Linked DNA regions of Homo sapiens: regions 1, 3, 4, 5, 6 and 7 are each linked to region 2. The links come from fine-mapping of genetic effects on gene expression. A gene starts in region 2. Each other region holds a variant in brackets. All regions are shown on one strand. Distances are between the middles of the regions. Region 1 overlaps CAMK1D (calcium/calmodulin dependent protein kinase ID). Region 2 holds the start of CAMK1D (calcium/calmodulin dependent protein kinase ID). Region 3 overlaps SEC61A2 (SEC61 translocon subunit alpha 2). Region 4 overlaps CAMK1D (calcium/calmodulin dependent protein kinase ID). Region 5 has its middle 70 kb from the start of CDC123. Region 6 overlaps CAMK1D (calcium/calmodulin dependent protein kinase ID). Region 7 overlaps CDC123 (cell division cycle 123).

Region 1 (4,270 bases), 490 kb after region 2:
TTAAAAAAAAAAAAAAAAAAAAAAGATGTATATACCTGTATGTGATCCACCACCCTTTTGAGGGGCACCTGGTCCTCGGTTGGGGCTGCAGGTGTGCCTGACATTTGCAAAAGATATTCCAGTCTTTCGATGTTCAGAATTGAAAATGTGGAGATAGAAAAGCTCAAACAGACTCCTAAAAGGAGGGTTTCTTTCCTGAAGACTCCAAGAAAATGAGTGTGCAGATGAGTTAGCTTGACAACCTCAACTCTGGGGAGCAGGCAGGCGGTCTGAGGAAGATAAGGGCCCACGCCCCACTCACCTGGCACCTGTTCGGTGGTCCCGGGGCATCATGGTCTGCAGCTCTGGGCCCCCAGCCCCACTGTGAAGTCAGTCCTGCATGCTGGCCGAGGCCCGGCCACCTCCCGATGCCTCCAGAGTCAGTGGGAAGGAGTCAGCCCTTCCCAGACTTCCCCGCCACCTCCAGCAGGAGCAGCTCAGTTTGTGGCTCTGGGAGCTCCGCTTTTGCAAACCCAAAAAGGCTGTGCATTTGGAAGCCAAACGCTCAGCATGCGGCTGCCGAGTCTGGTTTTGTGGACAAAGCAAACTGTGGAATGGCTTCTCGGTGTCTGTATAAAGGGACAAACGGTTGCATTCACCCTTTGTACTATAACACCGCTTCTGCATTCGCCATATCCGTTTTTTAACCTTTTTGTCTCCGGGGAACTTCTCATTCGATTATTATGTCTTCTGATGATTTGCCATGTTATTTTAAAGGTGATTTTATTTTCTTATGGACAGGAAAAAAGAAAATGAGGAGGAGTTGGTTTTACTCTTAGAGATAAGACTTCAGCAGGGGCTCAGAAACCCCAAACTCTAGTTAAATTGCTTCTCGGAGGAAAATCTTAATCTAGACAGATTCAGATTCCCAGGCTCTCCTGGAAGCCCTGCACTTCAGGGCACAGGGGCCCTGGGACGTGGTTGGCAGCCAGGCTGCGAGAGAGCTAAAAAGGAACAAGAACATCAGCTCGGATGTTTGTCTCTCAGCCCTGACACCTGCCACTCTCCTTCCCGGGGCACTTGGCCCTATCAGAGGGACATGAAATGCTGTCCGAATGGTGGCAGAAATGCAGCGACATTGCATGCAGCAGAGTCTTTGCTTCGAAAGATGGGGCGCCATGTTTCAGAGAACATTTATCTTAGTCCCACGTTCAGGTGAGAAGACCTCAAAGGTACCCTCTGTCCAGAATAAACATTGGAACAATCTCTCAATTGGCTTTTGTCACTACACATAATGTAATCTCCCTTCTTTCAGCTCCCCCAACAGTGAGCATGCTTCCCAAAAAATTACAACATCAAAACCAGGAATGTCCCCGCATCTACTATTACCAGGCTTGCAATTGGTTCAATTTTCCCATAAAAACATGTTTGTCCAAAAGAAGGGAAACTGTGAATTTATTCCATGCATGTAATAAACTCTGCAAGAAGTTTAACCCACATAGGTTTGCGGCACTGCAAAATTGTTCATGGGTCTATGTAGCAAATGATTCTCTGCCTTGACAATCATGTATACATATCAAGATTTCTATCATAATGATAATGAGATTGATGACTTCCTGTTTTCCTCCAATAAAGACAATTAATCACCTTCAGATGCTCATTTCCTCTGTCATGAGAAGGATGTGGAGTTTCAGTGTCTCTATCTTTCCTCTGCTTCCTGAAGTTTGGATTTGAAGGAAGGAGTTTGAATTGAGACCCCCCAAACTCATGGAGTCCCCCTTAAATATTTCAGGTCACCTCCCCAGTGAGCAGGGAGTGGCAGGGATGGGTGAAGGGATGGTACATCGTGCCTTTGGGGTTGGGGACAGGTGCCCAGGTTCCATGATCACTGGACAGGAAAGCTCCCCCTTTTCCCTGCTGCTGCAGAGGGGGACTGGAGGTGAGCCTGGGAACTCAAATCGCACTAACTCAATATTCCTAAGTCATGTGGAGGAAAAGCCAATGCTGATCCCCAGGAAGCGCCTCTGAGTCATGGGTGGCTTGGCAGCCTCAGGCTTCAGCAATACACACCCACGTTCTTCCATTTCCTCGGCATAGCAGTGCCCAAAGGAAGATTCTTTTCCAGGCAGAAGGCTGGCTGCTGTCTTTTGTGGGGGTTTGGGGGAGATGCAGGAGGAGGAACTACAGTTCATAGCTCATCAAATGTATTGTGGGGCTCGGGTCTGATGGCCAGACAATTCTTCCAATCCAAATAGGGATTGTGTAGGGAGAAAAAAATGAATTGGACATGTGTTATAGAAATGTAGAATTAAAACTGTCCCACACAGCCAGCATCAGATGAAAACAGCATGGGTGGGCCTTACTGAAAAAAGGCTATGAGCCCAAAAGAAAGGCAGTGCCCACTGTCTGATGTCTAGTTCTTTTGTGGTTGATTCTTGCTTCTGTAGCCCAGACCCTAAT[G/C]ATGAGTTGCATCAATACAAAGCTATCATTCAGTGGGTGAATATGTGATGTCGTTATTGCAGGTTTTATGGAACATAACATTTTGATGGCAAAAAAGGAGATACAAATCGTGTGCACCCAAATCCCCCTGACTCTCTCTGCCCCCAAGGAGAGTGACTATGCCATCAAAATCCTGTTTCATAGGCCAGGCACAGTGGCTCATGCCTGTAGTCCAGCCCTTGGGGAGGCCAAGGCGGGCGGATCACAAGGTTAGGAGTTCGAGACTAACCTGGCCAACATGATGAAACCCCATCTGTACTAAAACTACAAAAATTAGCTGGGCATGGTGGTGGGCGCCTGTAATCCCAGCTACTCAGGAGGCTGAGGCAGGAGAATTGCTTGAACCCAGGAGTTGGAGGTTGCAGTGAGCCGAGATCGCACCACTGCACTCCAGCCTGGGTGACAGAGTAAGGCTCTTTCAAAAATAATAATAATAATAATAATTCTGTTTCATAGAGAAAGATTCTGATAACAGATTTCCGTAAGTTCATCTGCATGTTGAGTAATTTGGCTGGGCTGGATGTGGTCTTAGGCATATGTATACACTTGGCTTGGACCAGTGCTCTTTAGCTCAAGAAAGACTGAGCAAGAGGTACTGTGCCCAGCCTCATATTTTACATACTACTTGGTTGCAACACCTGTGCTGAGCCCCCAGAATGTGTAATTCCCAAAAGAGCACCCCAATTTCACATTCTCTTCCTAACATAGAGAGTATGTATGTGTGTATGTACCATGTAAGGGGCTTCAAGCTGAGGGAAGTGGTGAGGTGTGATTTCCAGTCCATATCCTGCATGCCAAGCCATGCACCCTGGCTCAGGGGAAAAGATGTTTTTTTTTTTTTTCCCCATCCAGTTCATACAAAGGCACTGTATGGGGGCCTGCTGGCTTGGTGGGCCCAGCGGACCGTGAGCATTAGGCTGTGAGCTGTGGGCCAACTGCAACTTTTTATCAGGTTTTCAAAGCTGGAGAAAACTTCAGCTAAGAGCTCAGAATCGAGCAGGCTCTGAGGGAGTTCATCTGGCCTCTTGTGTAGGGATGTCCGAGTTGAAGAGTATATTAACCTTCAGGAAACTATCACTAAGGGGCTGGTGCATATAGAAGCACTTTACAGAGTTCATTAGACATCACACTGTAGAAAATGGGTTGGCCTCCCCATCTCACTTCACCAAGAAACCCAGGAAGTCTTGCCTTTCATTCAGGACGATTGGCAGCAATGACATGAGACCTTAGCGCCCTCGGAACCCACAGATCCTCCCTGATCTATTCCCCCTACAGGCTCCCATCAGTGCCCTTCCACCAAACACAGTCATAAGCTTTCATTCATTGATTCATTCCCTCCTTCATTCACTCAACATTTGTGAACACCCCTTATATCCAAGGGTTTTCGTTCATGCTGAAAAACACCAAAGTCAATCTGACATGAATCCTACCCACGAACACTGCATAAAACAGGAAGCACTCGAGTAAGCCTGGGAGGAAGGGGAGAGTTTAGACAGGAAGGATTGAATAGGTGCAATGTGAGGGAGAGCTTGGAGGCTGGGAATGCAGCATTCGGTGGGCTAGTCCATAGTTCATCGGGCCAGAGCAGAGGGTGTGAGCAAACCCGGGAGGAGAGAGAAAGGTGGGCTGGAGGGGCACGGGAGTCATTGTCATCAACAATAACTTCTGGAGCTAACACCATCACGTATTGACCATTTACTGTGTCCTGGACACTGTGCCATGTACATTCCATTCAATGTCTCATTTCACCAGCAGCCCTTAATAGGGAAGGCGCCCTGATTATCCAAGTGGC
Region 2 (4,000 bases):
CTCTGGCGGCTGTTCCTGAGGCCAGGCAGCAAGGGCAACATAGCAGAGAACCAAATAGGAAAAGAGGAGAAGGAAACACAGTGGGAGGAAGGGAAGGAGAAAGAAAGGACAAGAAGATGCTGACTGTAGGCATGAGAAAGCGACAGTTGGGATCTTAGTTGACTTATGCCCTGGTTCCCACTGTTTGTATTATCTAACCTTTGGCACAAGTAAAATACATGATAGTTTTTCAAATGTTTCTTATTGAAGGGGATGCTGTTTGCCTTGAACTTTGGTAATGTGCCTCAAGTATAAGAGAGGTTCCTTAGTAATTCTTCTCACCCATCCGTGTTGGAAATTGGGTTTGTGGATTTATTCTACATCTAACCGGCAAGTAAATCCCCTCTTTGCTCTTCTCAGTTTGGAAAACCTTAAGCTAACCGTCTTTGAAAGATGGAAACTAGCATGGAGGTCCCAGGAATGGGGATGCCAGGGTGTCGTCTGACCTCTTTAGGGTCAGAGTAGGGGCTGAGGGAGAGCAGCTGGGCTGCCTCCACTTCAGCCAGAGTCAGAACTAGGCACAAGGTGCTGGATGAAGTTTCCTATTCAGGGAGCAGATTTTTTTTTTCCTTTTACAGTGAAATTGGAACAGTCCTGGGAAAATGGGACAGGTGTCCCCAGTCAAGAGACAGAGCTGTTTACCCAACTACGAGGAGAGGCCCTGAGGGAGGCGAAGTGTTGATACCAAGAAATCTAAAATTTTCCGATCAAGAGGTCGCCCCTGCAGGTTGGGGACCAGGGAACTGGAGCACGTGGGCTGCCCTCTGACAGGTGGACACCAGGAGTGGGGCGGGCAGGCCAAAGTACAGCTGGGAGATGGGAGTCCGGAGGGAATTCTCTGGGTTAGTTTTGGCAGTCCATAGGAAAGCAGGTGCCTGCCCCGCAACCCGGACACCCTACTAAGCCAGCCGCGGGTGGGCTCCTCCTTCGAGGGGACTGCGGGGCAGACGATCACTTCTTTCCACTGAGTCTCTGGGAGGAGACAGGGAGATGCCAGAAGGGGCCAAGCGTGAGCCAGGGCAACCAGGCCGGCCAGGCCCGCCGGCCGCTCCAGCCCAGCACCAGGGCGCCCGCGCGGCTGCCAAACACCCCCGGGAGTTTTGCTCGCAAAGGGACCACGAGGCAGCTGCTGGCGCGTCCTGCGCGTACCCGCCCAGAGGCTCCCCGGCTTGCTCCTCGCGGGTCTGTCCCGAAACTGACGTGAAACCGATTTGGTGCAATGCGAATGAGCTCCCGCCCGCCTCCGCCTCCATCCCAGCCGCCGCCGCCGCCCGTCGCCATAACAACCGGCCCCCACCCCCCCCACCCCACGCCTTGCCCCTCGGGTCCCCCGGGCCACAGGCCACAGCGCGGGAAGGCGCCCCGCCCTCGGCGCCCCGCATCCGGCCGCCGCGCACCCCCGCCCGCCCGGCGCTTCCGAGCCACGCAGAGGCGCCCCCTCCCGCCGGAGACGGGAAAGCCCCGGCGCCCCCAGACTGGGCTCCGTTTCCAGCTCCCGGAGGGGCTGGGGCTCTCCCGCGTGCGCCCCGCACCTGCCGGGGGCCCGTACCCGCCCTCGCCGGGGCTCCAGGGGGCACGACGGCCGTGGCCCGGCGCTCTTGGGAGGGGAGCGGGACATCCCCGAAGGCGGCGCGCTGGAGGCGGGGAGCGGCCGGGGCGCACGGAGAGGGCGGGGAGCCCGCGGGAGGGGGAGGAGGGGGAGGAGGGGGAGGAGGCGCGAGGTGGGGGGGAGCGCGGCGGGCGGCAGGGAGGGAGCGGGAGGGAGGCAAGAAAGTAGCAGAAAGTGAGGCTGGCAGGCGGCGGCAAAGGAGCCGGCGCGCGGCGGCGGCAGGAAGTCTGTGCCCGAGAACAGCAGAAATAAGAGCCAGGGAGGGACCGCGGCCGCGGCGGCGGCGGCGAGAGCGAAAGAGGAAACTGCAGAGGAGGAAGCTGCGCCGCAGCCCGAGCCGCCCGGCATCCCCGCCGCCTCTGCGCCCGCGCCGCGCCCCCGGCGCCCCCTCCCCAGCGCGCCCCCGGCCGCTCCTCCGCGCCGCGCTCGTCGGCCATGGCCCGGGAGAACGGCGAGAGCAGCTCCTCCTGGAAAAAGCAAGCTGAAGACATCAAGAAGATCTTCGAGTTCAAAGAGACCCTCGGAACGTAAGTGGGGACCGGGGAGGCGAGGGTGGAGGTGGCCGCGGCAGGGGCTGCACGGGCAGCTCCAGCTGCCGCCGCCGCCACTACCGCGGCAGAAACCCAGCCTGTCACCGCGTCCTCATTGTCCCGTTCTCGGCGCTGCGGAGCCCCCCCGAGCGCGCCCGACGCGTGGGCCTGCGACCCCCGGGTGGGCGCCGTTCCCGGGAGGGGGAGGGGGCAGCGCCGGGCTGTCAGGGAGCAGCCCACGCGGGCGCGCGACTTCCCACTTCTCCTGCCACCGCCGCCCTCTCCGCTGCCTTCTCCCCACGCGTGACTGTGGGCTGAGCATGGTGGGGATGGCTGTTTACCGGCTGTGTGCGTTTACTCGCCGTGTGCATGGGCGCACCGCGTTGGCGAGACGTGGTCACGAGAAGATCAGCCTCCAGTCGTTCCCATTTCTGTCCTTACATCATGTATTTCTATGGAATTGGCATCTGCACGTACGAGGTGTAGGCAAGACTTTGGGTGGCCACGCGAGGATGGAAGGGAAGGGCTTCGCAGTGCTCAGGGTCACACGTGGGCAGAGCCTCACCGGAGGGTCTGTGCATTTCACGCGGGCTCGGCCGCACGCGCCGGGGAGCGCGTCTCCAAGGGAGGGTCTGTGCGCGTCGCTGCGCGGGCGGTGCTCTCTCCGGGCTGCATCGAGTCCCATGCTGATGGCTGTGTCTCAAGAAAGCAGAAATAATCCGAAGTCGATGGCAGGAACGCTCCAAGCATGTGCTGCTCAGCTCAGCTGCTGTTCCCTTTCTGCCCAGGAGTTGGGTCTTGTTTGTTTTGTTTCGGAGCGGCTCAGAATAGGTGGGGAGGCTGATAGTGAAAGAGAATCAGGACCTGCCGAATGAGTCTGAAGTTCAAGTTATTTCCTTCCCTCACACAATCAGTATTTGCTCTGCATCAGTATCTGTCAGTGTGGATTCACGCACAGGTGTGCAGTCAGAAATGCCCATTTTGCAGGGGTTCATGGAGGTGTTGATTAGGCTGGGAAGAGAAAGGGGAGCTATTTCATGGGATAAATCAGTGCGTTGTTGGGTGCCCTTTCTTTCCTTCCTCCTTTTTTTCCGTGTGCTTGTTTTTGTGCTTGGTTTCTTTTTTCCAGCACCACATTACCCAGCTTGTCTTCACCTCCAGGCTCGGCGTCTGCTGCTGTTCAGTCATTTCCCCTCACCCCCACGCAGATCTGCAGGGGGTCCCCCGGAGAGAAGTTGTGAGGGTGGCTTTCCCAGTCCTGCTTCTGATTCCCGGGAAGGCGCACGCTGAGGACTAGAGTGGGGTCTCCCTGCTGTGGTTGTTGCCTTTCAGGGAGGGCACCTATTTGCTATCTTTGTTGGAATGAAAACAGAAAAAGATGTAGCTTTTTAATAAATAGGGGTTTGGGGTTGCCTCTTAGTGCAGCCAGGTAAGGGGTTAGTTTGGGTCAAAACTTTTGAAAATTGCCACTGAGGTTTATTCGGGTTTGGGGTTGTGATTCTGAGATGCTCAAGTTACTGAGAGACAAGAAAGCATGGCCTTTGCTTGTCATCCAGGACCCGCACTGTGGCCGCCAATGAGGAGATGGGAGAGCATGGGGACCCACCCTGTGTGAATGCTTTCCTGTCCGTGGCTTGTTCCCACCCGAGCCCCCCACACTGGCTTCCTGCCTGTAGCCTCCGGGTGACTGATGCCCTGTCCCCTGACTGACTCGTGCAGCTGCACCTCTGCAGTGGCGGGGCTGCTGAGGCTCCAAGCTGTGGCTCCTGCTGGAGCATGGTGTTTGGAGATGACTGTGGGTGGTTTCCACCTTGGGGAAAAA
Region 3 (4,000 bases), 190 kb before region 2:
TAGCATTGTCTTTTCTTTTCTTTTTTTTTCCTGAGACGGAGTTTTGCTCTTGTTGCCCAGGCTGGAGTGCAGTGGCGCGATCTTAGCTCACTCTAACCTCCTCTTCCCGAGTTCAAGTGATTCTCCTGCCTCAGCTTCCTGAGTAGCTGAGATGACAGGCACGTGCCACCACGCCCGGCTAATTTTTTTTTTTTTTTTTTTGAGATGGAGTCTTGCTCTGTCGCCAGGCTGGAGTGCAATGGCGCAATCCCGGCTAACTGCAACCTCCGCCTCCTGGGTTCAAGCGATTCTCCTGTCTCAGCCTCCTGAGTAGCTGGGACTACAGGTGCATATCACCACACCCAGCTAATTTTTTGTATTTTAGTAGAGATGAGATTTCACCACGTTGGCCAGGATGGTCTCGATCTCCTGACCTCGTGATCTGCCCGCCTCGGCCTCCCAAAGTGTTGGGATTACAGGCCTGAGCCCCTGTGCCCGGCCGGCATTGTCTTTTCATCCCCCGCACTGTTCTTTGTTTTCCCTCTCTGGTCTCTGTTCTTTTCTTAATGTGTCTGGCTCCCCCACTTACTCTCCGTTTCCTTTTTTAGGGATTTCGCGTTGATCTGCCCATTAAGTCGGCCCGTTACCGAGGACAGTACAGCAGCTACCCCATCAAACTCTTCTACACCTCCAACATCCCCATCATCCTCCAGTCGGCCCTGGTGTCCAACCTGTATGTTATTTCCCAGATGCTGTCTGTTCGATTTAGTGGCAACTTTTTAGTAAATTTACTAGGACAGTGGGCCGTGAGTATTATGTTTATTTACATTATTTATAGTTTATTATAATTTGCATTTCATGGTTGTATTTTTAATGGAATGAGGTCGACATTGGAGCATTTGCTGTATTTTCAGATTCACTTACCTATATAGCAGAGTTTAGTACTTATCTGGAAGAACTGGTAAGTGTTGCAGAAGTAAGATTGCCCAAGCGCTTTTTATTATTTTGCTCTCTAGGAAGCACTTTCACATCTCATTTGAATGACCTTTTAAGCTAAAATTGTGGTTGATTTCATAAAAGTAATTTCCTATTTTGTCATCTTATTCCAGTATTGTCTACAATAATGCTTTCTAAAAGATGCTATTTGCTGGCTGGGTGCGGTGGCTCACTCCTGTAATCCCAGGACTTTGGGAGGCTGAGGTGGGTGGATCACCTGAGGTCAGGAGTTCGAGACCAGCCTGGCCACATGGTGAAACCCCGTCTCCACTAAAAATACAAAAATTAGCCAGGTGTGGTGGCAGGTGCTTGTAGTCCCAACCATTCAGGAGGTCAAGTCAGGAGAATTGCTGGAACCCAGGAGATGGAGGTTGCTGTGAGCTGAGATCACGCCACTGCACTCCAGCCTGGGCGACAGAACGAGACTCCGTCTCCAAAAAATAAAAACAAAAAATGCTATTTGCTGCTGCTAACATGTGAGATACTGGACTCATCCTAACCTTTCCTATCTCCCACCCTGCCTCCAGGCCTCCTCCATTTTTCATGGTCTGAATGGCAATAAGCCAGCTTGTGATGAGCTGGGCTAGAGATAGGCATGCTATTAACTAGA[C/T]GGTAGAGACAGCGGTGCTGCTAGTAATATAATCCTATACATTCTCATATACATCCCCCATCATAATTTTTTTTTCTTTTTTTTTTTTTTGAGACGGAGTCTCGCTGTGTCGCCCAGGCTGGAGTGCAGTGGTACGATCTCGGCTCACTGCAAGCTCCGCCTCCCGGGTTCATGCCATTCTCCTGCCTCAGCCTCCCAAGTAGCTGGGACTACAGGCGCCCGCCACCACGCCCAGCTAATTTTTTGTATTTTTAGTAGAGACGGGGTTTAACTGTGTTAGCCAGGATGGTCTCGATCTCCTGACCTTGTGATCTGCCCGACTCAGCCTCCCAAATTGCTGGGATTACAGGCGTGAGCCACCACACTCGGCCCATAATTTTTTCTAAAGCCATCTAGCCACGCTGTTATTGAAGCGTGAGTTACTGTGGGACTGAATTTTCATTGGTTTAAATTCTGTCACCTAACAAAGGGGTATTTTCCCTCTTAAAATTATAGATTTTAGCCAGGCGTGTTGGCTCTCATCTGTAATCCCAGCACTTTGGGAGAACAAGGAGAGAGGATAGCTTGAAGGCCAGGAGTTGGAGACCTGTCTGGGCAACATAGCGAGACCCCATCTCTACAAAAAAACTTAAAAACTAGCCGGGCACAGTGTTACGTGCCTGTAGTCCTAGCTACTTGGGAGGCTGAGTTGGGAGGATTGCTTGAGCCCAGGAGTTTGAAGGTACAGTGAGCTGTGATCATACCACTGCATGCCAGCCTGGTTGACAGAGTGAGACCGTGTCTCAAAAATAATAGAATTTTAAAAGACTAATGTCCTTTATTCTTTGCCACAGTAGGTAATTCTAGAATTTGCACCCCACCAAAGAATAGTATTTTTCTGTACAGTTATTCTTGAAATATGGTGTTTATTCTGTGCATTTGTCTTAATATGCTTTTTTTTTGCATTATAAGTTACAAAGACTCATACCTTTCTGCTTTTACTGAATGTCATTTAAAAAAAAGGTTTTTTTAAGATAATAAGACAGTAACTCATATATTAGTTGAAGGGAATAGGATTCCCTTTATTCATAATACTTCTTTCCCATTCATTTAAGAGAAATGTGATGATCTCTGTTGTATTCTGGCTAATATTATATCGAGGACAGGAAAGTCAAGAGACAGGAATAAGAAGAATGCTGTTTCTGCCCTCCTTAGAATAGTCCAGCAGCAGCTATTACTCTGATCAGAATGTCATAGTGATAGTGCTTTGAGTAGTTGGTCCTGTACAATTTGTGTTATGATTTTGAGTAAGATTCTTCTGAATGAGAGAATGATTGGGAGATAGTGCTTTTGATCTGGGATTAATGATTCTAGGGGCACAGTAAAGAAATCATTGGGCAGTCATAAATTCAAGAACCAGATACTGTAATCATCGCAACTAAAAATTGGTTTCTCACCCCCTATCTGTATACCCCAAAACTTTATTTAATATGAGCAAATAATGCTGTTCCTATTTCTGTAAGATTTAAGTATATAGATAAAAATCCAATTATTATATTTATTAAAAGATTGCTCCTTATAACATAGAAACCACATAAAGTCTAGGCAGCAAGTTAAAGTCTTATGTCAGTATTTTAGTTGATTGCATTAATATTTTCATATGGAAGGATCATTCATAGGGATCTTAATGTACTGACTGGATACTCTCATAGCTCAGAAAATTTCAGATTTTAAGTATAATCAGAGGTTGATTGTAAATGTAATCATATTCCTATTTTCAGTAATGGAAGATTTTGTAATATATTACAATTTTTAAAAATGACTCAATATTTTCACAGTGTCTTGCATGTAATAGGTGTTCATCGTATAACTTTGAAGGAGTGAAGGTAGTAGACACAAAAGTACATTCTGAAACTACATAGAATGACTAGCTGTAGATGCCTTGAACTTAAAACACTGTCATTTCTGAGAAGTTTGAAGTGACATGCAAATGTATTCCTGACTAATTAGGTTGACCACTTGTTCTTTGTACTCCTGTTCTGTAGGATGTCAGTGGGGGAGGACCCGCACGTTCTTACCCAGTTGGAGGCCTTTGTTACTATCTTTCTCCTCCTGAGTCCATGGGCGCCATCTTTGAGGATCCTGTCCATGTCGTTGTTTATATCATCTTCATGTTGGGGTCATGTGCATTCTTCTCTAAGACATGGATTGAAGTGTCTGGTTCCTCAGCCAAAGATGTAAGTGTTTGGTTTATTTTAAAATAAAACTCTTGGCAATGCATGGTGGCGCACATCTGTAATCGTAGCACTTTGGCAGGCTGAGGCCGCTGGATCGCTTCACCTCAGGAGTTTTGAGACCAGCCTGGGCAACATAGCGAGACCCCGTCATGACTAAAAAAATACAAATAAAAATCGGCCGGGCACGGTGGTGCAAGCC
Region 4 (4,270 bases), 310 kb after region 2:
GCCTGTAAGATCATTTAAATATACACACACACATTTACATACAAACAGATACCTGGATACAATGCAGTACAGACAGCAAGGTGATCCAAGAACTGGGGTGGGCCAGGTGCGGTGGCTCACACCTGTAATCCCAGCACCTTGGGAGGCTGAGGCGGGCGGATCAACTGAGGCCAGGAGTTCGAGACAGCCTGACCAATGTGGTGAAACCCTGTCTCTACTAAAAATACAAAAATTAGCTGGGCATGGTGGCACGTACCTGTAGTCCTAGCTACTCGGGAGGCTGAGAGGAGAATTGCTTGAGCCCAGGAGGTGGAGGTTGCAGTGAGCCGAGATCGTGCCACTGCACTCCAGCCTGGGTGACAGAATGAGACTCTGTCTCAAAAAAAACAAAGAACTGGGGTGACCCAGAGGAAAGGTGATTGGTGCTGCAAGCTGTGAGAAACAGCAAAGGGTTCTCAGTGGAGGTGATAGAGAAATGAGTCTTAAAGGATGAGTATTTTCGTAAGAAGACAGGAGAGTGATGAGCACACTCAGAGACGAAGGTGTGCATGGCTGGGGAGGGCGGGGTGTGCGAGACCTGCCGGGGTTCAGTAAAATGTTGGTGTGGGGCAGGGTGGAAGATGATGTGGGATGGGCAAGTAAAGACCAAGTGATAGGGGAGGGGGGCAGGGAAGTGCTTGGGAAAGGGAAAGTCATGGTCCATGCCTAGTGCTCCACCCCCAGGCCTATGTGCACAAAACTAGGTAAGGACAGGCATTTCTGTTTTTGTGCCCAAATGTTGCCTTCCCCAAGACCACCCTGGCCCACCATGTCCCCATCCTGTGCCTATAAAAACCCTGAGACCCTAGTGGGCACACACACAAATGGCTGGACATCAAGAGGAATGCACCGGCAGACCCACAGGCAGCAGAAGACACCATCAGGCCATTGACCAGCAGAAGGACGTGGAGTTTGGCTGGGGCAGTTGGAGGAGAGCCCAGCCGCTGGGCAGCATGACTCCAGGGGAAACCACCTTCCCACTCCATTCCCCTTCTGGCCTCCCCTTCCACCTCACTGAGAGCTACCACTCCATAAGAAACTTTGCACTCATTCTCCAAGCCCACGTGTGATCCGATTTTTCCGGTACACCAAGGCAAGAACCCCAGGATACAGAAAGCCCTCTGTCCTTGTGATAAGGCAGAGGGTCTAATAGAGCTGATTAACACAAGCTGCTTACAGATGGCAAAACTAAAAGAGCACCCTGTAACACATGCCCACTGGGGCTTCGGAAGCTGTAAGCATTCACCCCAGATGCTGCTGTGGGGTCGGAGGCCCACAGCCTGCCCGTCTGCATGCTCCCCTAGGATTATCAACAGCTGGCACTGAGAACGTGAGCCAGTCCCCCTGTCGCACACCCTGCAAGTGGGATAAGGGAACTTTTCCCATTTCACAAGTAACAAGTGACTTGTAAGCCATGCCAGTTGTTTGAACTTTCTCCTGTACTACAGGGAGCCAGTGCTGGATTTCATGCTAAGAAGTTTTATCAGTTCTATATTTTGGAGAGATCACTCAGGAGACAGCACGGAAAATGGATAGGAAGAGAGTGAGACCAGAGGGAGTTGGGGAGAACAATTAAGTGATTATAAACTGTGAGTGATCATCTGTGAGATAGGAATAATAATGCCTACTTTATAAGGCTGTTGCAGAATGAAATAACACCTGCCAATGTGCCTGTTTATTAAAATGAAAGGTATTACTTTTAATACCATCTGGCCAATATTTCAGTGCTATCACTGTTCTTGTGACTGACAATATCCCAATTTTCTCAGCATTATTTCCCACACTGATTATAATGTGAGAAAACAAGAATTTGACCCTAGTAAGGAGGAAATGATTTTTTTTTCAGTTTCGAAAAAACATAAGCGTTTACTTAGATAAACGGGAGGGTTTGCCAAGACATCACAATATTCTTCAAGTACTTTTGAGGCAATTCCATGCCAGGGAACCACGCCTCTCTTTTTGTGTGAATAAAATTTCAGCTTTCTGGGCTGCTTAGAGTGACAATGGTGGGTAGTGAAAGACCTGGTCCTCTATGGCCTTTGCTTGCGGAGAGAGGCCTTTCCCAGACTAGACTGTAAACCCGGAAGTGCCTGAAAAGCGGACCGGAAGCTGATTGCGGCTCGTTGACGTAACTT[T/C]CTCCTTGCACATTGCAGGGCAATCTGTGCCTCGCTATCCCCACCTCATCCTCTCTTATAATCAGTTTCACTCTTGTCTCTCCCTTCCGATTGTATTTTCTTACATCCCTTGTCTTCATCTGGCGTTCATAACCTAAGTAGGTCAATGCCCATTACTAGAGAATGGCAATAGCAAGGAAAGGCATTTTGTGGTCTTTTGCTTCCTCTGAATTACCTCATAATTGCTTCCAGGGATGCCCTGCAGATCAGTAAAATGATCGAATGGAAAAAGTGAGAAATGCTGAACTTTTTTTCTCCTCTCTTTTGTGCTTTGCTTTTTCTTTCTTTTTCTTAAATTTTCCTCATTTGCCATGGAGTTAAAAATTTGTGAATCCTTGAACTGGGGTACATGAGGCTGGAGGGGAAGATGTTACTCTCACTCCACAGAAGCACGTGTAGTCAGTAGCAGGCTGACCCTTTGGGTCCTGATGTTCCCTTACAAAGCTTGGGGGCTTTGTAACGGGGCCTGTTTGTACATTTGGTATCAGTTATTTTTTATGCATGAATTAATTTTAAAATGTTTTCTTGGCTTTTTCTGGAGTTTTCTTGCTTGGCTGTCAGTTACTATATGGACAGAAGTCTGCTTCAATGCCCATGTGCTTTTTTCCCATTCAAGTTGACTCTCTCTGCCTGGACCCACTTCCCTCTACCATTTCTGTGCATTATTGGAGATTATGGAGGCTTTCATGTAGGTTGCCATATAAACCATTTTCTCTCTGTATATAGATGTGTCAGCTCATGCTTACTTTGGGCCTGGTAAATGATAAGTGATGAAAATTAAGTTGAGTTTCTTTTTATCACCTGAAGTTGTTTTCAGTGACATTATTATGGCTTTGAATTACGCACATTTCAGGACATTTTGCTGTTTGAGAGTCAACATCCCTTATGGATGAAGATCCTCTTGGCCATACTTTGGAAAGAGTGTTGACCTCTGGGATTTCGCTGTGCTAGTTGACAGAATCTCCATTTTCCATTTGCCTATAACTGACATCTCTGCCTCTTTTCTCTGTTCAGTTGATTCTCTTTTTTGATGACACTAGCAGATATGGGCTAAGGAGAACCTCTTTCTAATTACTCTGGACTTCTCCCTATTCCTTCTGCTTTTCAACATGTCTTTTTCTGATTCTGTCTGACCCACTGGAATTTCATCTGTTAGGATGTTTACAACCGAGTATCTTGAGCACATCCACTAGATTCAAGATAATTCAACAAATCTCTGCACCCACAGAAGTGGATATTATATTGTTAATGATGGCATTAATACTTTGACTTTAGATATTCTAATTTTATAGAAATAACTGAATTTATATGAGCTCTTGGATAGTCTCATAACTTAGTTAAGTTATAGCGTAATTGCTTTAACATGGGCTAGGGAGTGAGAATAGACATAGATTGAATCTCAGCAATGACAATTATGAGTTCTGTGATCTTGGAATACTTACCTAGCCTCATGGGATCTTAGTCTCCTTCCTTATTTTCTCCTCTTTTAAAAATTGAGAAAATAATACCTACTTCATGGGCTTGTTGTTAATGGTAAATGAAATAATTAAAAATACTTAGTGCAGTCTTAACACATAGTTAACAATAAATGGTACAATAAAACAGCAATGTAAGCAAGGCCTAACAAAAGTTATAAAATTAGCTCATCACTAGGTTTAGATCTGTGACATCCCAGGGGACTGAGGAAATTGCACTTATCACAGAAGAGTCACAGCTGAAATGTTTGAGAAAACAATGTAAGAGAGGTTGTCAAAATTCCCAAACATATAAAGGGTAGAAGATGAGATCTATAGACTGGAAAGCTTGACTTCAATGCACAGCAAAATTCTGGAACAGAAAATTAAGCAGATGGTTTGTGATCATTTAGTAAAGACTGTAGTGGTTGCTAGGAGCTAACATGGGTTACTAAGAACAAATCTTCCCGAACATCCCATTTCCCTTTTAAATAGTATTATGTGGTGTGTAGAGCTGAAGAATTCTACTTCTGCAAAGCATCTAATTGTCTCCTTATGGATGGGATGGTAAAACACAGGCTAGATGATAGTACTGCTAGGTTT
Region 5 (4,000 bases), 84 kb before region 2:
TGTTTGGCTGCCACTTAATAAGTGAGAATATGCGGTATTTGGTTTTCCGTTTCTGCGTTAATTTGTTGAGCATAATGCTGTTTTCTTTTTTTTCTTTTAGACAGAGTTTCGCTCTTGTTGCCCAGGCTGAGTGCAGTGGTGCCATCTCAGTTCACTGCAACCTCCACCTCCCGGGTTCAAGCGATTCTCCTGCCTTAGCCTCCCGAGTAGCTGGGATTACAGGCGTGTGCCACCACGCCTGGCTAATTTTTGTATTTTTAGTTGAGATGGGGTTTCATCATATTGGTCAGGCTGGTCTCGAACTCCTGACCTCAGGTGATCCACCTGCCTCGGCCTCCCAAAGTGCTGGGATTACAGGCGTGAGCCACCGCGCCTGGCCATGCTGTTTTCTTAAACTAATCAAAAATAGTCTAAATACTGTACTTCACAGAATTTGTAAGGCTGGAAGAATCGGCCTGTGGCTGCTTCCAGCCTGGGAAAGGGATGGGCCACAAGATGGCGCCGCGCGTGCGGCGGTGAAGGCCGAGGCCGCCAGTGCCAGGTGGATGCCCGCCCTCCCCCAGGCCCTCAGGCCACGAGCAGGGGCGGGGGCACGGCTCACGATGTCATTTACACCGAGACAAAAGCCTAAATTGCTCCCTGTGCTTTCAGTGACCTAGGCCTTCCTCTCGTATTCTCTTTCTCTCGTATTCTCAAGTGTTTCTAGAAATGTGCTCTGGAGACATCCCCAAGCCAGTAGCTCCTCCCTCATTCTGAGAAGGCGGTTTAGTGCAGCTGGTCTCTGAAGGCATTGGGTGTTTTCCCCTCAGCTCCCGAGGGACAGCGTGGGAGGGTGGTGCTCTGGGCCTTCTCTCTACCATGCTTTGTTGTTGTTGATTTGTTTAAGCGCCAAACACTGAGTTTCCTTAATGTACCTGTGGGAAGATCAGTGGCAGAACTAGCAGAGGCTGTGTCCGGGCGCGGTGGCTCGCGCCTGTAATCCCAGCTACTGGGGAGGCTGAGGCAGGAGAATCGCTTGAGCCTGGGAGGTGGAGGTTGCAGTGAGCCGAGATCACACCACTACACTCCAGCATGGGTGACAGAGCGAGACTCCATCTCAAAAAAAAAAAAAAAAAAAAAAAAAAAAAAAAAAAGAACTAGCAACAAGCAAAGGCTGTGTTGCTTATGATACTTATTCCTGACAAAGGAAGGATGAACCTGAACTCTTAAATCTAAGGTGTTACCGGAAAGGGGTCCCGATCTAGACCCCAAGAGACCCTCGCACAAGAAGGAATTCAGGGCGAGTCCATAGAGTAAAGTGAAAGGAAGTTTATTAAGAAAGTAGAGAAATAAAAGAATGGCTACTCCATAGATAGAGTAGCGCAGGGGGCTGCTGGTTGTCCATTTTTATGGTTATTTCTGGATGATACGCTAAACAAGCGGTGGATTATTCATGCCTCCCCTTTTTAGACCATACAGGGTAATTCCTGATGTGGCCTTGGCATTTGTAAACTGTCATAGCGCTGGTGGGAGTGTAGCAGTGAGGACCACCAGAGGACACTGTCCTCGCCATGTTGGTTTTGGCCACTGTTTTACTGCAACCTGTTTTATCAGCAAGGTCTTTATGACCTGTGTTTTGTGCGGATCTCCTATCTTATCCTGTGACTTAGAATGCCTTAACCATCTGGGAATGCAGCCCAGTAGGTCTCAGCCTTATTTTACCCAGCTCCTGTTTAAGATGGAGTTGCTCTGGTTCAAACGCCTCTGACAAAGGGACAGTCATTTCACCTCACACATGAAAGCAAACCTAAAATTTTCTCTATTGGAAGTTCAATCTTGGCTAAGGGCATGATTTAGAAATCAAAGGAGTCTGACCTTCACGTGGTTTTGAACACTTGTGGAAAGGTAGCTGTGGGAAGGGACGTAGCCTTTGTAATGCAAGAGGAGAGAATGGGGTGTGGGGCGTGTGGCCCAGAAATGACACAGAACTCTGACAGCACTGCCCGGTTGCCATGTAGCTAGGTAAATATTTGCAAAGCACCTACTGCTTCTCCGGACTCGGGGCAAGTGT[C/T]TACTGGGCATGAAACCATCTCCGTGGGGAAGTGAGCCTTACCCAGTTCTTATCTCCCTCTTGAGGCCAAGTTCACAGAATATGACACAACTTCCAGAGGAAAGGGGGGCCTGCCAGTTCTTATCTTCCTCTCTCAGCTGGCATTGGGACATTTTAGTGGCCAGGACCAATGTGTTATCTGTAGGAGCCCTGAAGAGAAGAGGTGGGCCCAGAGGCTTTTTTTTTTTTTTTTTTTTTTTTTTTTTGAGACAGAGTCTCGTTCTGTCGCCAGGCTGGAGTGCAGTGGTGCGATCTCGGCTCACTGCAAGCTCCGACTCCCTAGTTCAAGCGATTCTCCTGCCTCAGCCTCCCAAAGAGCTGGAATTACAGGCACACACCACCACACCTAGCTAATTTTTGTATTTTTAGTAGAGACAGCGTTTCACCATGTTGGCCAGGGTGGTCTCGCTCTCCTGACCTTGTGATCCGCCTGCCTCGGTCTCCCAAAGTGCTGGGATTACAGGTGTGAGCCACCGCGCCCGGCCAAGACTCGTCTTCTGGATATTAATTCCCGGAGCTGTCATTTCCTGAGAGCTCATGATCAAGAGGCATTGAGAGGTAGACCAGCTCGCTGTATAATTGTTAGCGGTGCCAATCTGTAAGGCACGCTACAGTGTCATGGAGCTGTAATGAGATGGAAAATCATATTTCTCAGAGGTCTTCTCAGGTAGACTATTCTTTTTTAAAAATTTCAAATACAATTTAAAAACAAGTGCATGTTTTAAAATGTCATTTACCAAATCAAAAGCCAAACTAATAGAAAAAAAAATTTGTAACAAATATGCCAGATCAAAGCTTAATATAGTTAACATACAAATAAAAGGACTTCAAAATTAAACAAAATAAGATTGGGTTAAGGATGTTATACAGGCAATTCATAAAGGAAAAAACACAAATATACAATAAATATATAAAAAGATGTTCAAGACAGAATAAAAAATGCATATTACACTGTTGTAGAATAATATTTTTATGTAACCAAGTGAGAAATATTTTTAAATGGCAATATAATTGGTGTAGAAATGTAATCCTATGTAATTCTGCAATATATATGTTCAAAAGGCTTTTTTTTTCTTTTTAGGAAAGGCCTCTATTATAGATTTGATTAAAAAATATATATATATAGCCTGGCGCGGTGGTCACGCCTGTAATCCCAGCACTTTGGGAGGCTGAGGCCAGCGGATCACGAGGTCAGGAGATCGAGACCATCCTGGCTATCACAGTGAAACCCCGTCTCTACTAAAAATACAAAAAAATTAGGCGGGCGTGGTGGCGGGTGCCTGTAGTCCCAGGTACTCGGGAGGCTGAGGCAGGAGAATGGCGTGAACCCGGGAGGCGGAGCTTGCAGTGAGCCGAGATCGCGCCACTGCACTCCAGCCTGGGCGACCGAGAGAGACTTAAATAAATAAATAAATATAGAACCATTTAGATTTTCTATTTTTGTGTATCTGTTTTGCCTTTTTTTTTTTTTAGACGGGGTCTCACTCTGTCGCCAGGCTGGAGTGCAGTGGCGCAATCTTGGCTCAAGGTAACCTCCGCCTCCCGGGTTCAAGCGATTCTCCTGCCTCAGCCTCCCGAGTAGCTGGGACTACAGGCACGTGCCACCACGCCCAGCTAATTTTTGTATTTTTAGTAGAGACGGGGTTTCACCCTGTTAGCCGGGATGGCCTCAATCTCTTGACCTTGTGATCTGCCTGCCTCGGCCTCCCAAAGTGCTGGGATTACAGGTATGAGCCACCACACCCAGCCTTTTTTTTTTTTTTTTGAGACGGAGTCTCGCTCTGTCTCCCAGGCTGGAGTGCGGTGGCGCAATCTCAGCTCACTGCAAGCTCCGCCTCCCAGGTTCACGGCATTCTCCCGCCTCAACCTCTGGAGTAGCTGGGACTACGGGCACCCACCACCAGGACCGGC
Region 6 (4,270 bases), 39 kb after region 2:
AAGTAAATTCACATACAATATAATGTTTTGATACTTTAATAAAAAATAATAATAATGTAGAACTACGAAGATAACTTTACTCAGCCGGGCGCAGTAGCTCACGCCTGTAATCCCAGCACTTTGGGAAGCTGAGGCGGGTGGATCACTTGAGGTCAGGTGTTTGAGACCAGCCTGGCCAACATGGTGAAACCCCGTCTCTACTAAAAATACAAAAAAATTAGCCAGGTGTGATGGCGGGCACCTGTAGTCCCAGCTACTCAGGAGGGTGAGGCAGGAGAATTGCTTAAACCCAGGAGGCGGATGTTGCAGTGAGCTGAGATTGCACCACTGCCCTCCAGCCTGGGCGTCCAAGAGAGACTCCATCTCAAAAAAAAAAAAAAAGTTACCGTTACATATTTCATTTTACAATTATTGCTATTCATAGAGTAGTGACAGCCTTCACGCTTTGACACTCACATTATATGTATAATATATAATGGCTAACTTTCATTGAGTTTGAGATATATATATTATATTTTATATATATAATATATATATTATATATTATATATATTATATATTTTTATATATTATATATATTTTATATATTTTATATATTATATATATTTTATATATATATATATATATAGACATTGTAAACTCTTAATGAAAGTTATATTATGTGTATCTCGGTTGCTTTTTTTTTTTGAGACAGGGTCTGGCTCCGTGGCCCAGGCTGGAGTGCAGTGGTGCAATCTCGGCTCACTGCAACTTCCACCCACAAGGCTCAAGTGACCCTCCCACTTCAGCCTCCTGAGTAGCTGGAACCCTGGCTAATTTTTGTATTTTGTTTGGTAGAGATGGGTTCTCGCTATGTTGCTCAGCTTGGTCTCAAACTCCTGTGCTCAAGCGATCCGCCCACCCCAGCCTCCTAAAATGCTAGCATTACAGGCATGCGCTACCGTACCTGGCCTGTGTGTGTATCTTTATGTCATAATAATTGCTCAATAAATGCTAACTATCCTCTATCGGGATGTAAGTTCTGAACTATTTTATTCATTGTGAAAGACTGGGCTCAAAAATTTCCCTTTCGCCCCTGCTGGCGCCCCACCAATGCTTAGTTGCTGTCATGAGTGAGTGAGCAGATGGAGCCCACTGTGGGAGGGAAGAAGCCTCAGCTCTTTTCTCCCCTGGGAACCTCCCTTTCTGTAGGCATCTTGCCAGCCAGGCATCTTTGCTTGTTCTTTGAGTAGGTTGAGGTGACTCTCAGGAGGCTTCTGGGATCGTCTCCAGAAATGCGCTCACCAAAGAAGACCCTGGCTCAGCCTCCCAAGTAGCTGGAAGTACAGGCGTGTGTGTGCCGCCGCACCTGGCTAATTTTTGCGTTTTTAGTAGAGATGGGGTTTTGTCATGTTGGCCAGGCTGATCTCGAACTCCTGACCTCAGGTGATCCGCTGGCCTTGACCTCCCAAAGTGCTGAGATTACACGTGTGAGCCACCGTGCCCGGCCCAAGCCCTTGTTACTGTCGAATTCTCCCCGAATCAACCTTGAAACTTAACCAGTTTTCTTGCTTTCAGCTTTTCCCCCAGACTCCAGCTTCTAGATTCTCTGTCTGTCAATAAGAGTGTCGAGGTTTAGAGCAGAGGCAAAAACTGGTTTACAGCAGAGAAAAAAGCCTTCATCTACGCTGGTGTGCCTTCTTGGCCCAGGAAATGTTTTTGGCAGTCTGAGTGTTTTGTCTTCTCTGTTGGGGGCTGTTAAGAGGCACAAGAAAACATACCTGTCTGCTAATTGCAGAGGTTAAAAGGCAAGAGCAAAAACACATCGCACCTGACATGCGTTTCAAATTAATAAATTGTTAAAAATGCCTACTTGGGAGACTTCTGCGGGGCTCAAAGACAGCTCCGTCATTACCTGGGGCTAGAGGCTCCAGCAGTTTTTCAGATACTGTGTGGCAATGCGAGGTTTGTCTGCTGTGAAGGGAAAACCATCCCACCGCTTAGGAAGTCGTGAGATGCAGCACGAATGTGATTTTGTTACCACGCTCCCCTGGAGGCACGTCGTGCTGTTCTAGAAAGCCTGTCGTTGGAGGAAAACACTTGATGAGCCTGCGGTAAAGGCGTGGCTTGCGATTTCACTTGGGAAGCACATTGTCGTGTCGTCTGTGTGATTTACATCCCGCAGCTGATGGAGACACCACCATACTCCATGGAAGGTCCTTCCTGTCCGATCTGTCCAAGGTCTGGAGGAAGAGGCGAGATGGGTCAACTGTGAGCTTCCATCAGCTTCTGCTTAGAGAGAGGCTAATTATTTGGGTTTCTGGTGATTCCACCAGCTCCAGATTTAAGTGTTCTCTATGCTAGGGTGGCGTGGGGGTGTGTGTGGTCAGTTACTGCTTAAACTCCCTGCAGAGGGGGCTGAGGGGCTTGGGTGGCAGGTGGTTGGCGGTGGCGCGTGCCAGCCCCGGGTCTGTGCCTAGACCAAGGCTCATGTTCTGCCCATTGCTCTTGGGACAGGCTCTTTGGGACATCAAGGATTCTGGGACCATCC[C/T]GACACTGCTCTCCTTGGGGTGCGTGGCCAGAGGTGTCTTCAGGCTTCAAGGAGAGGTGCTCAGTGCAGGAGACTCAGCTTCTGCCCAGCACCACAGGGTCGAGGGCTTGGAGCATCCAGGTGGTTTCATCCAGGCCTGAGTGAGAACGTGACCTAGTTACTGTGCCTCTCTGCACGTTGGCAGAATAAACAGACCTTGCTTCCTTCCCTACTCACAGCAAGCAGAATTCTGCTGAGCCTCTCGGAGGCTGGAGGGCCGGTTTTAGTAACGTGCCCTTTCCTGGTTGGCGACCGTCCAGTTATTTTGGGTGAATGTTAATGGCCGTGAGTTTGAAAGTTGTAGTTAGATGAAAACGCCCTCTCTGGACACAGTGTCCTTGTCACCTACTGTCTGAAGGTGCTTCCTTTTTGGGGAATAGGATTGAGAGCAAAATGGTCACAAAATCTGTGGCTTTGGATTGTCATTTGATTTTTTTTTTTTGATGCCTTCTGTCTGCATTTAGGTCAGTGGAAGGGATGAATTCATCATAGGCACTTGTAGTAGAACATCTCCTTGAGCCTCAAAGAGAAGGCTATTTTTCCTGTGGGTCATCTTTGTGCTGTGCATGGGAGGTCCTGCCCCATGGGGCAAGGTGAGTTTAACTTTTGGAGGTGGCTGGTGATCTTGGGGGGAATTTAATTTGAGGACATGTGCATGACCAATAAACTGTTCTGGAGGAATGAATAGTCCTGTGTCTCCCATATTTTTACCTTTTATAAAGCGCTTGTACTGCACGGTGTCCTTATTCTAGGCTGATGCAAAATTTTCATACTGCATTTGCTAGTGATTTGCACCAGTGGCCGAAGAACTATAAAGTAGTTGTCTCTATTTTTTAAAAATTAAAAAAAAAGATGGGGTCTTGCTCCATTGCCTAGACTGGTCTCAAACTCCTGGCCTCAAGTGATCCTCCTGTCTCAGCTTCCTAATTGCTGGGATTATAGGAACGAGCCACTTTGCTCAACCTTAGTTTCTGTTTTATTCAGAATGGAAGGAATTTCTCATATAAGTAGAATTCTAGAGCTAGAAGAGACATTGTATCTCTAGCTCTGTCTCTGTCTTTATCTCTGTCACTATATCTGTCTCTGCGTCTGTCTCTAAACTGTCTTTATCATCAGGCACAGAAAGTTAAGCCCCATTATTCAAGATCCTACAACTAGTTGAGGGTAGAATAGGGTCCATTGTGCCCAGGCAAAACCCAGGTAAGAGTGCAGGGCCAGGGCTAACCATGAGCTCCGGGACTTGTGCAGCCTGCCTGTTTCCAGTCTGTGTGTTCCCCCTTGGGTCATGTCACGTGGGAGCAGAAGCTTCTAGTCGAACGTGTAAAGGACCCAAGAGGAAAGGGGAGCCCAGAAGGGTTGAGGGACTTGCCTGAGATCACACAGCTAGTGAGCGAGTCACCTATCCAAGCCTGGAATACGGGTCCAGCTGTCCCCACGGAGCCATCCTTCTGGCCCACTAGATTCAGAATGAACTCAGGCTCAAGCGTGCGTGAATAAGAGGATGCTGTGCATAGTCCTGACTTTATGAATCAACTTGATGAGATTCTGTGTGGGGTCAACTAATGTGCTCAGAGTCCAGCATTGAGTGAGTAGGAGGTGGGAAGGGGTCCAAGCTCAGTTCTGGCAAAAACTCCAGAGCTCAGTGTTGGGCCAACACTGTCTTCTCTCGTGAATGAGGAAAACCCTTTCTCAGGCCATGAT
Region 7 (4,000 bases), 110 kb before region 2:
ATTTGCTTCTACCATGTTCCTCAAAACTCATTCAGAGAAGAACAGTCATTGTGTCCTGCCCTGTCATTAGAACTGTCTCCTCACACTCCCTTTCCTGAGACTGTCGCCTTCTGGAGTTTGTGTCTGAGTTCTGATTCCCTTCCTGTGGCCAGGCTGCTAGGAGACCCTCCCACGGGTTCCCACAGCACTAGAGTTGATAGGCTTAGTTCTGTTCTTCGGGTTCTTGTTTCTGGCCCCGGGGGATTTCCCGGTCTTTCTCATAATCTCAATTACACTTTTAAACGGCTTGTCGTAGCATGTGTTTCATCCTGTTTGGAACAGCAAGCCTTGAGAGTTACATAGCTGGCTGTATTTCAGGAGCCCTCACATATCTCACACTCCAGCCAAAATAACCTATTCCCGCAACAGGCGGTCGTGGCGTGGCCTCTGTACGTGAGAGCCGTCGTTCTTGTTAAGTGGTCCGCTTTTCCTGCCAACACCACCCTCCTCCCAGGGCATCTCTGTTATCCCTCAGGTGCCCAGGTCCTTTGGGAAGCATTTCCAGCCTTCCCTCGCACATGTAGGCAGGCTCTCCTGTGTGCCTCTCCGCTCTCACAGTTCCCTGTTCTTGCCTCTCTTGAAGCAAAATACCCTGCACATTGCCATTGTTGGATGGCTTTTGGTTCTGTTTTGGGGAAGTGGAGATGTGTGTTCTGCTCAAGCCTGAGCTCTTGGAAGGAGTCGATTTTGTGTTACGATCTTCATGCCCAGTGCCTAACACAGTGTCTGGTCCCTAGAGCTTGATCGGGGCAGGGAGACAGTCAGCTGGTACAAGGACAGTTAGTCCGACTGCTCTTTGCTTATTGGATTGCCTCAAAGCAGAATTAACTTCTCAGGCTGTTTGTGCTTGAGATGTCACATGAAAACATGTTATGGCCGGGCGTGGTGGCTCACACCTGTAATCTCAGCACTTTAGGAGGCTGAGGCAGGCAGGTCACCTGAGATCAGGAGCTCAAGACCAGCCTGGCCAACATGGTGAAACCCCGTCTCTACTAAAAATACAAAAGTTAGTCAGGCACAGTGGCAGGCGCCTGTAATCCCAGCTACTTGGGAGGCTGAGGCAGGAGAACCACTTGAGCCCAGGAGGAGGAGGTTGCAATGAGCTGAGATCGCGCGACTGTACTCCAGCCTGGGCAACAGGGCGAGACTCTGTCTCAAAAAAAAAAAGTTATAAAATCCTGATCCTGATCCTCCTAGTTTATAGAAGTTACAGCTGGGTTTTTTTTAATTTACTTAAACTCTTTTTTTTTGTACTAGAGGATAGCTTCTGAGCTACAGAGTACACTACCAATTAACAGTGGTGGTTTGTTTTCATTTAAAAATGTGTTTTGGGCTGGGTACAGTGGCTCACGCCTGTAATCTCAGCACTTTGGGAGGCCTAGGCGGGCAGATCACCTGAGTTTAAGAATTGGAGACCAGCCTGACCAACATGGTGACACCCCATCTCTACCAAAAATAGAAAATTAGCCAGGCGTGGTGGTGCATACCTGTAGTCCCAGCTACTTAGGAGGTGGAGGCAGGAGAATTGCATGAACCCAGGAAGGGGAAGTTGCAGTGAGCCGAGATCTCACCATTGCACTCCTGCCTGGGCAACAAGAGTGAAAAAAAAAAAAGGAAAAAATGTGGTTTGGTTTTTTGCATTGTGGCATATTCCTATATTAAAAGTGTGATTGTTTAAAAAAAAATGAGTTAGTTTTACTGACTATAAAAAGCCAAGTAGAGGCTGGGCACAGAGGGTCACGCCTGTAATCCCAACACTTTGGGAGGCTGAGGCAGGCAGATCACGAGGTCAGGAGATCGAGACCATCCTGACACAGTGAAACCCTGTCTCTACTAAAAATACAAAAAATTAGCTGGGCGTGATGGCGGACGCCTGTAGTCCCAGCTACTTGGGAGGCTGAGGCAGGAGAATCACTTGAACTCGGGAGGCGGAGGTTGTAGTGAGCAGAGATCGCACCACTGCACTCCAGCCTGAGTGACAGAGCGAGACTCCATCTCAAAAAAAAAAAAAAAGAAAGTCAAGTAGAAAAGATTTGGAGGTTAGAAAATGTCCATTTTGTATCATGACATATATTGAAGACATCTTAGCAGTATTCTCCAAAATAAAGTTGACATCATTACCAAGAAGTTGTTTGACGGCTGATACTGTTTCACATAGTTCCAGGAATGAAGAAGTGGGTGCCAAATGGAGGTGAGGAAACAACTCAAGCGGTGAGAAATTTGCAGGGCCTCTCCTGGGGCTTGTATAAAATGAGGAACTTACC[TA/T]AATGGGTTGTGCTGAAAACATCCTGCGAAAACATCCTGCGACAGGCCTGTGCCACTTAACTGGAGGTTCTGGTATTTGAAGCAAGTCCTAATTAGATGTTGCATCTTTCTTAACAGTTTGCTCTCGCTCAGCTGAGAAACAGTGCCAGATATTAGGCATGCTGGCTCAGCGGTCTTGTTGCTTGGAATTTCACAGACACACACCCGCTCAGGACATGGCGGCAACACATTTATAGAAAAAAACAAATTCATTATTAACCAGATGGCACAAATATATGAATGTTTCAGTGAGAAAAGTGAAAAGGAGCAAAGATAAACCTTTCGAGGAAACATCCATCCACTTCGTGTCAATAGGTGTTCGTGATCGGATGCCGTGGCCGTCATTCCTGGCGGCGCAGCCCCTGTGCCCCCGCTCTGTGCGTGTCAGCACTGGCTGTTTTCTGCTCAGAGGCCCCAGCCCTACCTCAGCACAGTGCCCCCAGCTCAAAGGTGACCTTTCCCTGAGGAGAGTCACCAAATTGCCCACCTGTGGTTTCAGAACAGGACAAGGTAGACATTTCTTTCAGAGGTTGGGGTGGTTTTTTTTTTTTCTTTTTTCTTTTTTTTTTTTTTTTACGTCCCCTTCATATGCTGTCAAGCTCTATTGTACAGACGGAACACTTACCACATTCACATAGAAAGAAAACAGCATCTTCAGGCTGGGCACGGTGGCTCATGGGGAGGCCAAGGTGGGAGGACATTTGAGGTTAGGAGTTCGAGACCAGCCTGGCCAACATGGTAAGACCCTGTCTCTAGTAAAAATGCAAAAATTAGCCAAGCATACTGGCGCATGCCTGTAATCCCAGCTACTCGGGAGGCTGAGGCAGGAGAATCGCTTGAACCTAGGAGGCGGAGGTTGCAGTGAGCCGAGATCGCACCATTGTACTCCATCCTGGGCAACAGAGTGAGACTCTCACAAAAAACAAAAAACAAACAAAAACCACAGAAAAAAACCCAGCATCTTCATCCTTGCATATGGTAAAAAAATCCACCCTTGGCAGCAGCCTTTCCCGAGTCAGAAGCGCTGCTCTCTGGAGTCGCAGGCACTGCCTGGCTCCGTCCGGCTCCCCCTGAACAGAGCACTGAAGGCTCCGGGAAGACGCTTTGGTCAGACCGCAGACCCTTCGCCTTTGGGTGACAGTTCCCTTTCCTGCTGGAATCTTTTTTTCTTTTTTTTTTGGAGACCCGGTCTTGCTTTGTCACCCAGGATAGATGGAGTGTGGTGTTTTGATCACGGCTCACAGTAGCCTTGACCTCCTGGGCTCAAGCAATCCTCCTACCTCAGCCCCCTAAGTAGCTAGGACTACAGGCGTCTGCCACCGCAATCAGCTAATTTTTATATTTTTTTGTAGAGATGGGGTTTCACCATGTTGCCCAGGCTGGTCTTGAACTCCTAAGCTCAAGTGGTCTGTCCGCCTCAGCCTCCCAAAGTGCTGGGATTACAGGTGTGAGCCACCATGCCCGGCCCTGCTGGAATCTTTGACTTAAAGTTCCACTGTGGCTTGAGGCTGGAGTTGGAACGTTATCTCTTAGGCAGAGCTTTACTGGGTCCCTTCTCTCTTCATTCACAGGGGGCCCTCCCTTTAGATCTCTGTCTATTCAGACAGGCGGCCCTTTCTCAGATGGGATATAGACAGATGATCTTTTGAAATAAGTG

Evidence for each region. PIP is the estimated chance that this variant, and not a neighbour inherited with it, causes the effect.
Region 1: its variant is fine-mapped to the expression of CAMK1D in whole blood (INTERVAL, PIP 0.97).
Region 3: its variant is fine-mapped to the expression of CAMK1D in whole blood (INTERVAL, PIP 0.98).
Region 4: its variant is fine-mapped to the expression of CAMK1D in whole blood (TOPMed, PIP above 0.99).
Region 5: its variant is fine-mapped to the expression of CAMK1D in whole blood (TOPMed, PIP above 0.99). The same link has a PIP of 0.9 or more in atrial appendage, left ventricle, lung and neutrophils.
Region 6: its variant is fine-mapped to the expression of CAMK1D in whole blood (INTERVAL, PIP 0.97).
Region 7: its variant is fine-mapped to the expression of CAMK1D in whole blood (TOPMed, PIP above 0.99).

Annotation. Positions count from the first base shown.
Region 1 is chr10:12,833,915-12,838,184 of GRCh38, forward strand. CAMK1D (calcium/calmodulin dependent protein kinase ID) reads left to right here. Exons shown (of 11, transcript NM_153498.4): 11 at 1-1,631. Among named protein-coding and RNA genes, the nearest start is that of MIR548Q, 110 kb to the left of the region's middle. The variant G/C (reference allele first, on the strand shown) is at 2,440.
Region 2 is chr10:12,347,736-12,351,735 of GRCh38, forward strand. CAMK1D (calcium/calmodulin dependent protein kinase ID) reads left to right here and starts at 1,812. Exons shown (of 11, transcript NM_153498.4): 1 at 1,812-2,175. The coding sequence starts at 2,084. RefSeq lists silencers at 971-1,230, 1,271-1,830, 2,001-2,090 and enhancers at 2,127-2,626, 2,801-2,960.
Region 3 is chr10:12,157,321-12,161,320 of GRCh38, forward strand. It overlaps SEC61A2 (SEC61 translocon subunit alpha 2), which reads left to right. Exons shown (of 12, transcript NM_018144.4): 9 at 588-785; 10 at 3,610-3,801. Among named protein-coding and RNA genes, the nearest start is that of MIR548AK, 29 kb to the left of the region's middle. The variant C/T (reference allele first, on the strand shown) is at 1,586.
Region 4 is chr10:12,657,769-12,662,038 of GRCh38, forward strand. All of the region lies in intron 2 of CAMK1D (calcium/calmodulin dependent protein kinase ID), which reads left to right. Among named protein-coding and RNA genes, the nearest start is that of MIR4481, 6.7 kb to the left of the region's middle. The variant T/C (reference allele first, on the strand shown) is at 2,175.
Region 5 is chr10:12,263,845-12,267,844 of GRCh38, forward strand. No RefSeq gene overlaps it. Among named protein-coding and RNA genes, the nearest start is that of CDC123, 70 kb to the left of the region's middle. RefSeq lists enhancers at 333-871, 746-845 and a silencer at 466-525. The variant C/T (reference allele first, on the strand shown) is at 2,051.
Region 6 is chr10:12,386,838-12,391,107 of GRCh38, forward strand. The region is part of intron 1 of CAMK1D (calcium/calmodulin dependent protein kinase ID); the gene reads left to right. Among named protein-coding and RNA genes, the nearest start is that of CAMK1D, 39 kb to the left of the region's middle. RefSeq lists enhancers at 1,405-1,904, 1,954-2,454. The variant C/T (reference allele first, on the strand shown) is at 2,531.
Region 7 is chr10:12,241,747-12,245,746 of GRCh38, forward strand. All of the region lies in intron 10 of CDC123 (cell division cycle 123), which reads left to right. Among named protein-coding and RNA genes, the nearest start is that of CDC123, 48 kb to the left of the region's middle. The variant TA/T (reference allele first, on the strand shown) is at 2,304.